Regions from separate parts of the Homo sapiens genome. Here region 1 is linked to region 2. The links come from fine-mapping of genetic effects on gene expression. Tissue or cell type: whole blood. Region 2 holds a variant in brackets; the other region holds the start of a gene. All regions are shown on one strand. Distances are from middle to middle.

Evidence for each region. PIP is the estimated chance that this variant, and not a neighbour inherited with it, causes the effect.
Region 1: SAMD3 starts here. The variant in region 2 is fine-mapped to the expression of SAMD3 in whole blood (TOPMed, PIP above 0.99).

What each region holds. Positions count from the first base shown.
Region 1 is chr6:130,220,041-130,225,982 of GRCh38, reverse strand. It overlaps SAMD3 (sterile alpha motif domain containing 3), which reads left to right and starts at 3,032. Exons shown (of 12, transcript NM_001017373.4): 1 at 3,032-3,289. RefSeq lists an enhancer at 2,316-2,425.
Region 2 is chr6:130,141,762-130,147,703 of GRCh38, reverse strand. SAMD3 (sterile alpha motif domain containing 3) reads left to right here. Exons shown (of 12, transcript NM_001017373.4): 10 at 1,523-1,694; 11 at 2,282-2,364; 12 at 2,900-3,389. The coding sequence ends at 3,184. Among named protein-coding and RNA genes, the nearest start is that of SAMD3, 78 kb to the left of the region's middle. The variant T/C (reference allele first, on the strand shown) is at 3,300.

The DNA of each region.
Region 1 (5,942 bases), 78 kb before region 2:
CATCAATTAGATAAGAAGGGTGATGTGATCAGAAGACAATGGAGCCAGGATTAAGCCAACATCAGGCTGACCCCTCAATTTCCTTAGGCGTCTCTCCTTAGCACTTTACCAGGAATAGGTGCCCAGGCAAGCATTTTTCAAGCTTCCAAATGCCAAGGAGTTTGAAATGACAAGTTAGTTTTTGGCCTGGTTATAGAAATACTGAATTTTCTCATATCTTAAGCTTTTTGGATGACCTAATATATGAATAAATATTTTTCCTCTTCTTCCAACTACTCTCACCTTTATATTGGTGTGCCACATTTGTTCCCATATGTAATCAAAGAATGGTAGAAGTGAGTAGGCAGCAGTTAAGATTGGAATGTAAGGATTTTTAAAAATAAGTTTACCTTGGAACAATCTAAAGAGGAAAGCTATGTGCTATTATAATCCTTACAGTCTTTATTTCTAATATGCCTATCTTACTGAAACTGATCCAGTAGTCCCATAGACAGTTTTTCTTAAATATAGAAATTAATCCTTCTGGTTTTAAAGCTTGAAACTCACCAGATCCAGACAATGAGATACCAGCCTCTCATTCATTGTAATTGCTCCCTTACTCCTTCCACATTCTTGTTTTCCCATACATATTTAACATTTCTTCCCCGCTATATAAACCTCTAATTTTAGTTGATCAGGAAGATGGATTTGAGACTGAGCTCCCATTTCCTGGACTGCAGCACCTGATTAAAGCCTTCTTCCTTGGCAATACTTGTTGTCTCAGTCGTTGGCTTTCTGTGCAGCAAATAGCAGGACCTAAACTGAACCCCTGGTGTTTCAGTAACATTATTTTTTACTTGTTAATCATTCACATAACCTTTTCCTCTCCTCCTTACTTTCTTCCCCATGCTCACTCACTCTCTTGCTCAGTACTGCTCTCTGTCTCTGTCTGTCTCTCTTTATCTCTCTCTAACACACACACATACACACAAATTCAGACACACAGACTCATATTTAATGATGGACTATAGCCTACCAATTGGTATGAATTTTACCTTTTGGGCCAACTCTAAAAAGAGTGCTTCGGGCTGGGCGTGGTGACTCATGCCTGTAATCTCAGCACTTTAGGAGGCCGAGGCAGGCGGTTCATGAGGTCAGGAGATCGAGATCATCCTGGCTAACACAGTGAAACCCCATCTCTACTAAAAATACAAAAACTTAGCTGGGCGTGGTGGCACGTGCCTGTAGTCCCAGATACTCAGGAGGCTGAGGCAGGAGAATCGCTTAAACCCAGGAGGTGGAAGTTGCAGTGAGCTGAGATCGTGCCATTACACTCCAGCCTGGGTGACAAAGGGAGACTCCATCTCAAAAATAATAATAATAATAATAATAATAATAATAATAATAATAAATAAATAGAGTGCTTTTGCATAAACAAAAGTTTGAACATTCTGGCCCGTCCTCACATGAACCTAGGGCTGGCAGAAGCATGAGCATTTGTCACTCATGAGAAACACAGGGTCCTATGCCTTTTTGTGTCTCCACACCTCCCATCTGTGCTTTGCTTTTGATACGGGAGGCGGGCAGGGAAGTGCTGGGTAGAGAAGAATGGGGTCCCTGGCTAGGGCTCCACCCTCAGGCCTGTACCCATGGACGTAAGTGAGAACAGGCACTCCTGTTTTCACGCCCAAATGTTGCATTTTCCAAAAGCACTCTGGCCCGCCACACCCCCATCCTCTGCCTATAAAAACCCTGAGACCCTAGCGGGCACAGACACAAGCGGCTGGACATCAAGAGGAACACACTGGCAGAATACACTGACAGACTGGCAGGACATCAACAGCAGTATGATGTGGACCACGTAGAATTTGCCTGGGGGTGGTTGGAGGAGAGTCAGGCCACTGAGCGGCCTGACTCCAGGGGAAGACCGCCTTCCCATTCCATTCCCCTTGTGGATCCCATCCATCTGCTGAGAGCTACTTCCACCAGTCAATAAAACTGTGCACCCATTCTCCAAGCCTACATGTGATTCAATTTTTCTGGTACATTAAGGCAAGAACCTTGGGATACAGAAAGCCCTCTGTCCTTGCGATAAGGCAGAGGATCTAATTGAGCTGATTAACACAAGCCACCTGCGGATGGCTAAGCTGAAAGACTGCACTGTAACACACTCCCACTGGGGCTTCTGGAGCTGTAAACACTCAACCCTAGGTGCTGCCATGGGGTAGGAGCCCATGCTCCCCATGACCTGCCCGTCTGCATGCTCCCTCTAGGGGTTTGAGCTGCAGGGTACTGAAGAAGCGAGTCACACCCATCGCACGCCCTGCAAGGGTGTTTCCAAGTTTCACTTTGAGTCACACTGCATTAAGAAGATCCACTACCTTGCATCCCCTTCTTCCTGAAGAGGCCTACAAAGTCAGACCAGCACTTAGTGTTAACAGATCAAGAGAGCCCAGCTTGACTCTACCAGCTGAGCAATATAGGTGGATACAGAAGTCACCTTTCATGTGTTCTAACAAATGAGTAACTCCAAAAAAATAGTTGTAATATTTTAATAATGTAAGTTCTTGCCACTACTCAGAGCTATAAAATGTTCAGCTATCACCTGCACTATCACGTACACACTGAGCTATGTAACGAGAATTACATTCAGCCAATGTCTGCTAAATAAAGGTTTGTGCATTTTAGTTCAATGATGTAGCTACAAAGAAAATGAAGCCTCAAGACACTAGAACCTTCTGAGATGCAAAGCTTTGAGTCCTTGACTTTGAATTCAATGTCTAAATTCTAATACATTATTATTATATCTGCCTTAAGATTGATATAGGAAATTTTTTTTCTAGTTAGTGTTATTTCTTCTAGGAGCTTAAAAAAGGTAACTAAGGAAGAATTAAATGTTCCAAAGATATATTATGGTAAACATGTATGTACATACATGGGTATTTGTCACACTTGTCAGAATCTTCTTCCTTTGAGAGGTGCAAACGTTAGCTGTCTGAGATCCACCCTGTTTCAAACTTACCTTATGCTTCCTGTGTACTGTGAGGCTCCCAGTCTTGCTGTCTTTCAATGGGGCAGCCACTGCTCAGTTGCTGCCATTCAGAAATATGAACCCAGTATCACCAGAACTTTTGATTTTTCAAGAGAAACCAAGATTCCAGATTTGTAGGTGATATCTTCCATTTTTCAGATAAAACAAAGGAACCAGAACCACATCCACTGATCGGATTTGCCTGGGGAGGAGGGGTGCTCTCTCCTTTGATCTTCTCTTCTGGAAGAGATGGACCAAAAGCCTCTCCAGCAATAATCCGTAAATATCACTTTTTACCTTTTCTCTATAAAACTCTAACTTTTCTGATATTAAGATAAAATTCTTTCATTGAGAAAAATTTAAGAGTGGCAGATTACAAACAAAAAACATTAATTCCTCCAAACAGAGATTGCCACTTCTGCCTTCTAGTATATGCTTTCCCAGCCTTTGTGTAACCAAGCATTTCATTCTACTTTTATTTTATTCTTTCCACAAATCTGAATCATACTATTTTAAATTTATTTGCAGTTAACCATATCCATGACTGTTTCTCTCTACATAGTTATTTGTCTAGATACAATTTTTGATTACTACATAGTATTTTATTTTAAATATAAATTACTGTAATTCATTGGCCAATTCCTATTGCTGGAAATTTTATCTGTCCAATTTATTTGCTATTCGGACCATTGCTATGGCACACATCTTTGTGTTCATTTCTGTTAATGTCTTTAGGCACATTCTTAGAAATGCTATTTTGGGGTCAGAATGTAGAAATATTTTTAATGTTTTTGGCTTGCATTAGTACCCTTTAAAGTTGGATAGATTGGATTCAAATCACTTTTACCTTTACAAGCAAAGGAACCTTAGGCGAGTTACCCTGTAAACTCCAGGACTTTCAATTATAAAATGGGAATAATATGACAGGGCAAGTTGTGCCACTTTATACTCCCCTTAGCAGTGTGTAAGAGAACAACTGACCTTGCATTCTTGCTAATTTTCACCTTTTCCAATGGAATAAATGAAGATGGTATTTAATTATTTTTATTACAAATAATGTAGATTTTTCAGATACTGGTTTAAAATTTTGTTCAAGAGTTACCTATTCCTATTTTTTTCTATTGGTGTATTAATTTTTTAGTTGGTTTTATGGATTATAGAGTTGACCCTTGAACAACATGTGTTGGAACCTCTCAGGTCCACTTACATGCAGATTTTCTTCTGCCTCTGCCACCCCTGAGACAGCAAGACCAACTCTCCTCTTCCTCCTCCTCCTCCTCAGCCTACTCACTGCAAGACGACGAGTATGAAGATCTTTATGATGATCCACTTCCATGTAATAAATAGTAAATGTTTTCTCTTCCTTGTTATTTGCTTAATAACATTTTCTTTCCTCTAACTCATTTTATTGTAACAGTACTGTATATAATATATATAACATACAAAATATGTGTTAATTGTCTATGTTATCAGTTAAGATTCTGATCAATAGTAGGCTATTAGTAGTTAAGTTTGGGGGTAGTCAAAAGTTACTTGCAAATTTTCAACTGCATAGCAGAGTCAGCGTCCCAACCCCTGTGTCGTTCAAGGGTCCACTGTGATATATATGTGTACACATGCGTTTTTCCTTTTTAGTCAAATCTATCAATATTTTATTTTTATTATGTAATCTTAGATTATTTTAAACTCTTTTTAATTTTTCATATTTACATATTTAACTTATCTGAGGAATTTATTGTGTAGGTGTTATGAGGCATTATCCCAACAAAATATATTGACTAATCCCTTCTTTGTCACCAATTTTAAAGATCTTTTCACTGGCTGGGCGTGGTGGCTCATGCCTGTAATCCCAGCACTTTGGGAGGCCAAGGTGGGCAGATCACAAGGTCAGGAGATCGAGACCATCCTGGCTAACACAGTGAAACCCCGTCTCTACTAAAAACACAAAAAAATTAGCTGGGCGTGGTGGTGGGCACCCGTAGTCCCAGCTACTCGGGAGGTTGAGGCAGGAGAATGGCATGAACCCGGGAGGCGGAGCTTGCAGTGAGCCGAGATCGTGCCACTGCACTCCAGCCTGGGCAACAGAGCGAGACTGTCAAAAAAAAAAAAAGATATTTTCAGTACTTCCATATGAATGTTTCTGTTTCTAAGTTTCTATTCTGTTTCAATATCTGTTCTCTTTTCCTCCAGTACCATGCTGTTAATAGCATAACATTTTTTAACATCTGGAAGTGCAAGTCCTTTTGTCAAGCATTTTTCGTTCTTTTTACCTATTTATTCTTCCACATGAAAACTAGCCTCATAGTAAGTAAAACATATAACCACGTATGTATATTAATTGGAATTTATAAATTAATTCTGAGGGAAATGACATCTTCAAACTATCAAGACTTCTCAGTCACACATCCAGCTTTTCATAAAATTCAATAGCACAGTTCACAGTTACCATCTCTGGCAGGACTGTAATCTGTGTTGCTGAACCATAAGCTTTGGCTGTCAACGAGGCAGAAGCAGGGATAAACCATAAGTTTGACTCAAAGGCCAAAACACTAGGGTGTTTGTGACTCAAAAGTTCCAAAGTTCTGGGACTCTGGCTCATTGCTATTTTTGTTCATTAATTTAACTAAACCTCCCAGATAAGTGGCTCTTTAGTTTCTTTGAAAATGTAAAAATTGGCCAGGCTAGTGGCTCACACCTGTAATCCCAGCACTCTGGGGGGCCGAGGCAGGTGGATCACAAGCTCAGCAGTTCGAGACCAACCTGGCCAACATGGTGAAACCCCATTTCCACTAAATATACAAAAATTAGCCTGGCATGGTGGCACGCGTCTGTAATCCCAGCTACTCAGGAGGCTGAGGCAAAAGAATGGCTTGAATCCGGGAGGTGGAGGTTGCAATGAGCCGAGATAGTGCCACTGCACTCCAGTCTGGAT
Region 2 (5,942 bases):
TGAATGGAATGTGTAGTAGATTTTCCTGAATTTGGGTGCTCTTGTACTTAGGAAATACACAATGAGGTATTAAGGAATAGTGGGGCATTGTATCTACAGCTCATTTTCAACTGGATCAGAAATTGGGGGAAGCTGCACAGAGGGCACTTGTAAGTTCTGTTTACTATTTCTGCAACTTTAATGCAAACTTGAAATTATTTCAAAACATAAAAAGTCAGAAAAGAAATTCTTAGGCTATGAGCCCAGAACAGTGGCGTATTCACCTCCTTCATCCTTCCCTTCACATCTTCCTGCTGAGAAAACGGTTTTCTAACGGTATTAATCTAGATTAGTGGTCCACTGTGGGTTGCCTGGTAACAAAGCCACTATGCCTTATGCATTCCAGCTTTCTGACAACTTAACTTTCAGACCTAATCTCTAGGCAATTTATGATCTACCAAAACATTCAAGGAACAATGAGGCCCAGTGGGTAGTATGTGATTGTTCTTTATAGTTTTAGGAAAAGCAATGACTAAATTAATTCACTGGAGTGTGGGTGGCTAATAATCTGATAATGCCACTGTCAAAAACAGGAGGGGGAGTGGTGGTGGAATCCTCTGAGGGGGAAGAGTTCAGGCAGTGGTAGGATGGGGTAGTTTGAGGAAAGGGACTTCCATAAAGTAAACTGGTTTTGCTTTGAACTTGTAGTCAAATCTGCACATACATTGTTTCTTTTTCTTTCTTTTCTTTTGAGACAGGGTCTCACTACGTTGCCCAGGCTGGAGTGCAGTGGCACAGTCTCGGTTCACTGCAGTCTCGATCTCCCCGGGCTAAGGCAATCTTCCCACCTCAGCCTCCTGAGTAGCTGAGACTATACACGTATGTTGCCATGCCCAGCTAATTTTTGTGTTTTGTAGAGACAGGGTTTTTCTGTGTTGCCCAGGCTGGTCTCAAACTCCTGGGCTCAAGTGATCCTCCTGCCCTGGCCTCCCAAAATGCTGGGATTATAATCATGAGCCACCGTGCCCAGCCATATATCGTTTTTCACTGTTTACCTCTGTCTACTCTTAGTTTCTAAAGCACTCTCCTTTACCTAAATTTAGGATACTATGGTTAAGTATTTGTCAGGGCTTGCTTCCTAAAATCTAACAGTTTTGTTCTTTGCTGCTTGTTGAACAAGACATAACAATGTAGTCACCTAAAGAAATGTAAGATCTTAGAACCTTAGCTGGGTAACCCAAATAGCCTGCATATGCATACACCCTTTGAATCCTCATTTAGTTGAGTCTGCATCCAAAGTTTTAGTTCTGTAGGTTTAGAAATTTGCCATGCCCATTATTTATCATTTCAAATTCATTTCAGGCTTTCATTCTTTTCTCCTCCCTCATCCTAAGGCTTTAATTCTCCACTAAAACTTCTAAAATATTGAGTACTTAGTGTAAACCAGCATTCAAAGCTTAATTCTAAAGGTTTTATGTCTTTACATTCTATATATTAGCTTTTCTTGTGATCTGATGTATCCATTGCTTTCTTCTTTTGTCAGATGTTCAGAGAATTCCAACTTCTTACAAGAACAGATATTTATAAGAAAACAAGGCACATTTTGGAATCCTATTCAGAAAATATACTGACTTCTTTTTCAGTGGTGGACAATCCAATCAATATTGTATTGCAAGAAAAAATGAAACATTACACAGATGAAGACATGTTGAAATGTTAGTAAACCTTATGGAGTGGTGTGATTTCATCTGTTATTTATCAGAATATCTAGAAAAGTTATGCTTTGGTAGTCAGTAAAATTCAGTAGTTTACATTTATTGAGTTTTAAAAATATATTTAAAAATTAAAAATTTACATTACTAAAATATATTTAATAATAATTTTCAATATTTAAGTAATAAGTGAAACAACTGGTGGGGAAAAAAAAGAATTTTTCCAATTAGAGGAGGAGGAGAGGTATAGATTTTAAAAGTATACTGGATATTGTAAAATTATATTTAGGGAACTAGTAACCAGTTAATTTTACAATACAAATCACAAGGGGCAGCATAAATTCTTCCTGGCTGATGGACAGACAGTACAGAACTCTTGTCTTCTGGAAGTGCTCTGGAGGGCAGATACGAGATTTTGAATGTTTTATTAGAAGAGGGTATGGTTTAAAAAGGTGTGAAACATTGATCTAAGAAGGCTAGTTTGTTTTCTGTCCAAGGTAACAAAAAATCCAGATGTTTCAATACTAGCTTAGCTTACAATTGCTAAAAGCTTATTTTTACTTCACATGTTAACATATTTGCTTTGACAGACATGAAGATGACAGCCACATGTTTACTCCTCCCAGATGTTTTTGGGGATGATCCCAGCCTTTTTGTCATCATGAATGAACAGGTATGTAGTATGTGAATGGCCACTAGTTTGACATTTTACATCTTCATGCGATTATTTATATTATTTATTTACTTATATTTTTGAGATGGAGTCTCACTCTTTTGCCCAGGCTGGAGTACAATGGCGTGATCTTGGCTCACTGCAGCCTCCACCTCCTGGTTCAAGCGATTCTCGTGCCTCAGCCTCCCAAGTAGCTGGGATTATAGGCATGCACCACCACGCCCAGCTAATTTTTGTATTTTAGTAGAGACGGGGTTTCACGGTGTTGGTCAGGCTGGTCTGGAACTCCTGACCTCAGGTGATCCACCTGCCTTGGCCTCCCAAAGTGCTGGGATTACAGGCATGAGCTACTGAGCCCAACCGCGATAACTTATTTAAAAGCAAAGTTGGTGGTCTATTTTGAAGTATGTTTGTCATATTTACAAATATGCTACATTGCAACAAGCTGATTTATTGTAATACCATGATTAAGTTCAGATGTTTTATTATTTAGCTATTTTACGTATCATGGTAATGACTCCACTCTTTTTTTCAGGTGCAAGTGTCCACACCTGTGTTGGAAGTTAAAAACCCTTTCAACATGGAGGTCTGCGAATTTTCTTTATATTTAGAAAGGGAGAGGCTCACAAAGGTGGACGACTGTGTTACAGCCTTGGCTGCGCTAGTAGCTGCCTTTCATGTATTTAGGATTGAGTGTCCAAGAAGACTGTCCCAAACTTTCAACTTCCTAGAAACGCTGATTTTCGATATGCACAGTCCTTATTTTCCTTCTTTGAAAGAAAAGGAAAACGAAGTAGGATTTCAGCACCCACTCACTTAATAGCATGCCAAATATTGTACTGGAATTTACCTCTGGGAAAACTGAAGCTTCATAAGAAATTGTTTTGATTTAGGGTTGTGGTAGAGGTAGGTATGAGAAAATCATCTTGTATTTA[T/C]AGATGCTAATGAATTTCAATGCTTTCTATCTTTACACTTAGATATTAAGTTCTTTGTGAAATTCTGTAATAAAATTCTACTTCATTAAAGAGCTGTCGATTTATTTTGAGTTTTTAGAAATTCCGCAGTTAAGTTATATTTTCAGAGGTGCCTCAGTTTTTTTGAAATACACTGTACTCAAATCCTTCAGGTTAGAGAATGGCCTTGGACTGAATTCAGCATGCCCACTTAATGCACAGGAGCTGCACATTTATGGCCTGTGGGCTGTCTCTTTGGTCTGAACATCACTTGGGAACATTTTGAACTTGCATTGAACATTTCAAGAAGGGACACATACTCTTCTCTCCCTCAGGGGATCTGCCTTGCCCCAGGAGATCTGGTTGTCTTTAATCGCTTGTTGAGAATAAGGGCTGCGGCATTTTTGAGGTCTCCTCATTGCTGGCTGATCTTGCTGGTACAGGTCCTGATGTCTGTGACCTGTGTTCATCTGCTACTGCTTCTCGCCTTGGAAACACAGTGACTCATCCTGCATGCCCAACTGGCTACTGCCCAGAGTCCAGTTCTATCTGTTCTGCTCTTAACAATGGCTGCATAAGTACTTTTTGGGTCTAACAAGACTCAGTGCACTCTCCCTCTTTCCAACTATTTCACAAGGTAAGAACTATAGTTTAAGGTGCCCCTTGATGTTATTATCAAAATATCAACATGACTTATTAGCTTTGGAAGATAGACCAGGGCCTTTTGGGAACAGAAAAGGGATTTAAGTGTGTTAAAAATACCTACACAGCATGGTGGGATGAACATTTCCTGGGTTACATGTTCAAATTAATTTTTTTTTAAGTTTAAGAAAGGCTCATGTGGGCCGGGCACGGTGGCTCACACCTGTAATCCTGGCACTTTGGGAGGCCAAGATGGGCAGATCACCTGAGGTCAGGAGTTCGAGACCAGCCTGGCTAATAATGTGAAACGCTGTCTCTACTAAAAAAACAAATTAGCCGGGTGTGGTAGCACATGCCTGTAGTCCCAGCTACTTGGGAGGCTGAGGCAGGAGAACTGCTTGAACCTGGGAGGCGGAGGTTGCAGTGAGCCAAGATCATGCAATTGTACTCCAGCCTGGGCAACAGAATGAGACTGTGTCTCAACAAACAAACAAACAAAAACAAAAGAAAGGTTCATGCAAACTATTGAAGAAATAGTTTTACACTACCCATCTCTGGAAATAACTGCAAAATATTTATTCTATCACTGAAATGACAACAGCCTGCTAGATATCTTTCTCTCTCTAAGGACTGTTCATTAAAACGCTAAAGCCAGTGAGATAAAAGAAGTCAAAGAACAGTTGCCCATTTCTACAATCACTATTAATTAACTACTTACATCAAAACACAGGCAGAGTAAGTAACAATTTGGCACAAGTCATTTTGCCTAACCTAGTTCCTATCCTCCAGTAATCATTTCTTCCCTTTCATTAGAATGTACCTTTAGTTCCTTACAAACTTTCCTTTATTTCCCCAAATTACTCCTTCTTCCTTTTAGTCCTTTATTCCCAAATAAACTTACCAAGTTCTTACAGATTCTTTTCCTTATAAGGTATACATCCCTATGGCTGAAGTTGAATGACAGCCTCTCTCAGGCCATGACAGGATGACAAGGTGAGCTACAAGGAAACTGCAGTGAAGTTTGGCTCCAAGCATGACACAGACATGGGCTGACCTTGAAGGTAGATTCAAGCCCATTTTATTGTCTTTCTCAATGGTGTATCTATCCCCAGTGCCCAGCACATCCTGACACTTGCTAAATTCAACACTGCTTGACCAACATACCCTATTTTATTTAGGGGCTGAGTCTACTGAATCTAGAAGTTGCAGAATGGCAGCCTGAGGACAAATATCAACCTGCACAAAGGTTGTATTTGGCTTGCGCAGTGTTTTCAATTTTTTAAAAAAAATGCCTTTAGATGGGAAGGTCCTATCAAGGTCTATATTTTCTATTCCTCCCTTTTCTCTCTTTTATTTTTATTTTTTTGAGATGGGGTCTTGCTATGTTGCCCAGGCTGGTCTCGAAATCCTTGGGCTCAAGAGATCCTCCTGCCTCAGCCTCCTGAGTAGCTGGGATTACAGGGTTGAGCCACTGAGCTTGGCTTCCACCGTCTGTCTTACCCCAAGCCTGCATCTCTCACTTCAGAGATCTCCCTACAATCATGGTGCCCTATATTCTCTGTTAAAACTTAGACTATATCCCAGGGATGGAGTGGTGAGAGTTTTCACCTTCTTGAGGTACAGTGAATTCCTCACCACCCTACAGATGCTTAATGCCTTGCCTCTAACATGTAACAACATGTTGCATAGAATGAGTGGATGTCTTCAATAAGATTTTAAAAATTGCCCGGGAGTGGTGGCTCATGCCTGTAATCCCAGCACTTTGGGAGGCTGAGGCAGGCAGATGACCTGAGGTCAGGAGTTCAAGACCAGCCTGGCCAACACGGCAAAACCCCATCTCTACTAAAAATACCAAAATTAGCCAGCCGTGGTGGCGGGTACCTGTAATCCCAGCTACTCAGGAGGCTGAGGCAGGAGAATCACTTGAACCCAGGAGGCAGAGGTTGCAGTGAGCCGACAGTGCACCACTGCACTCCAGCCTGG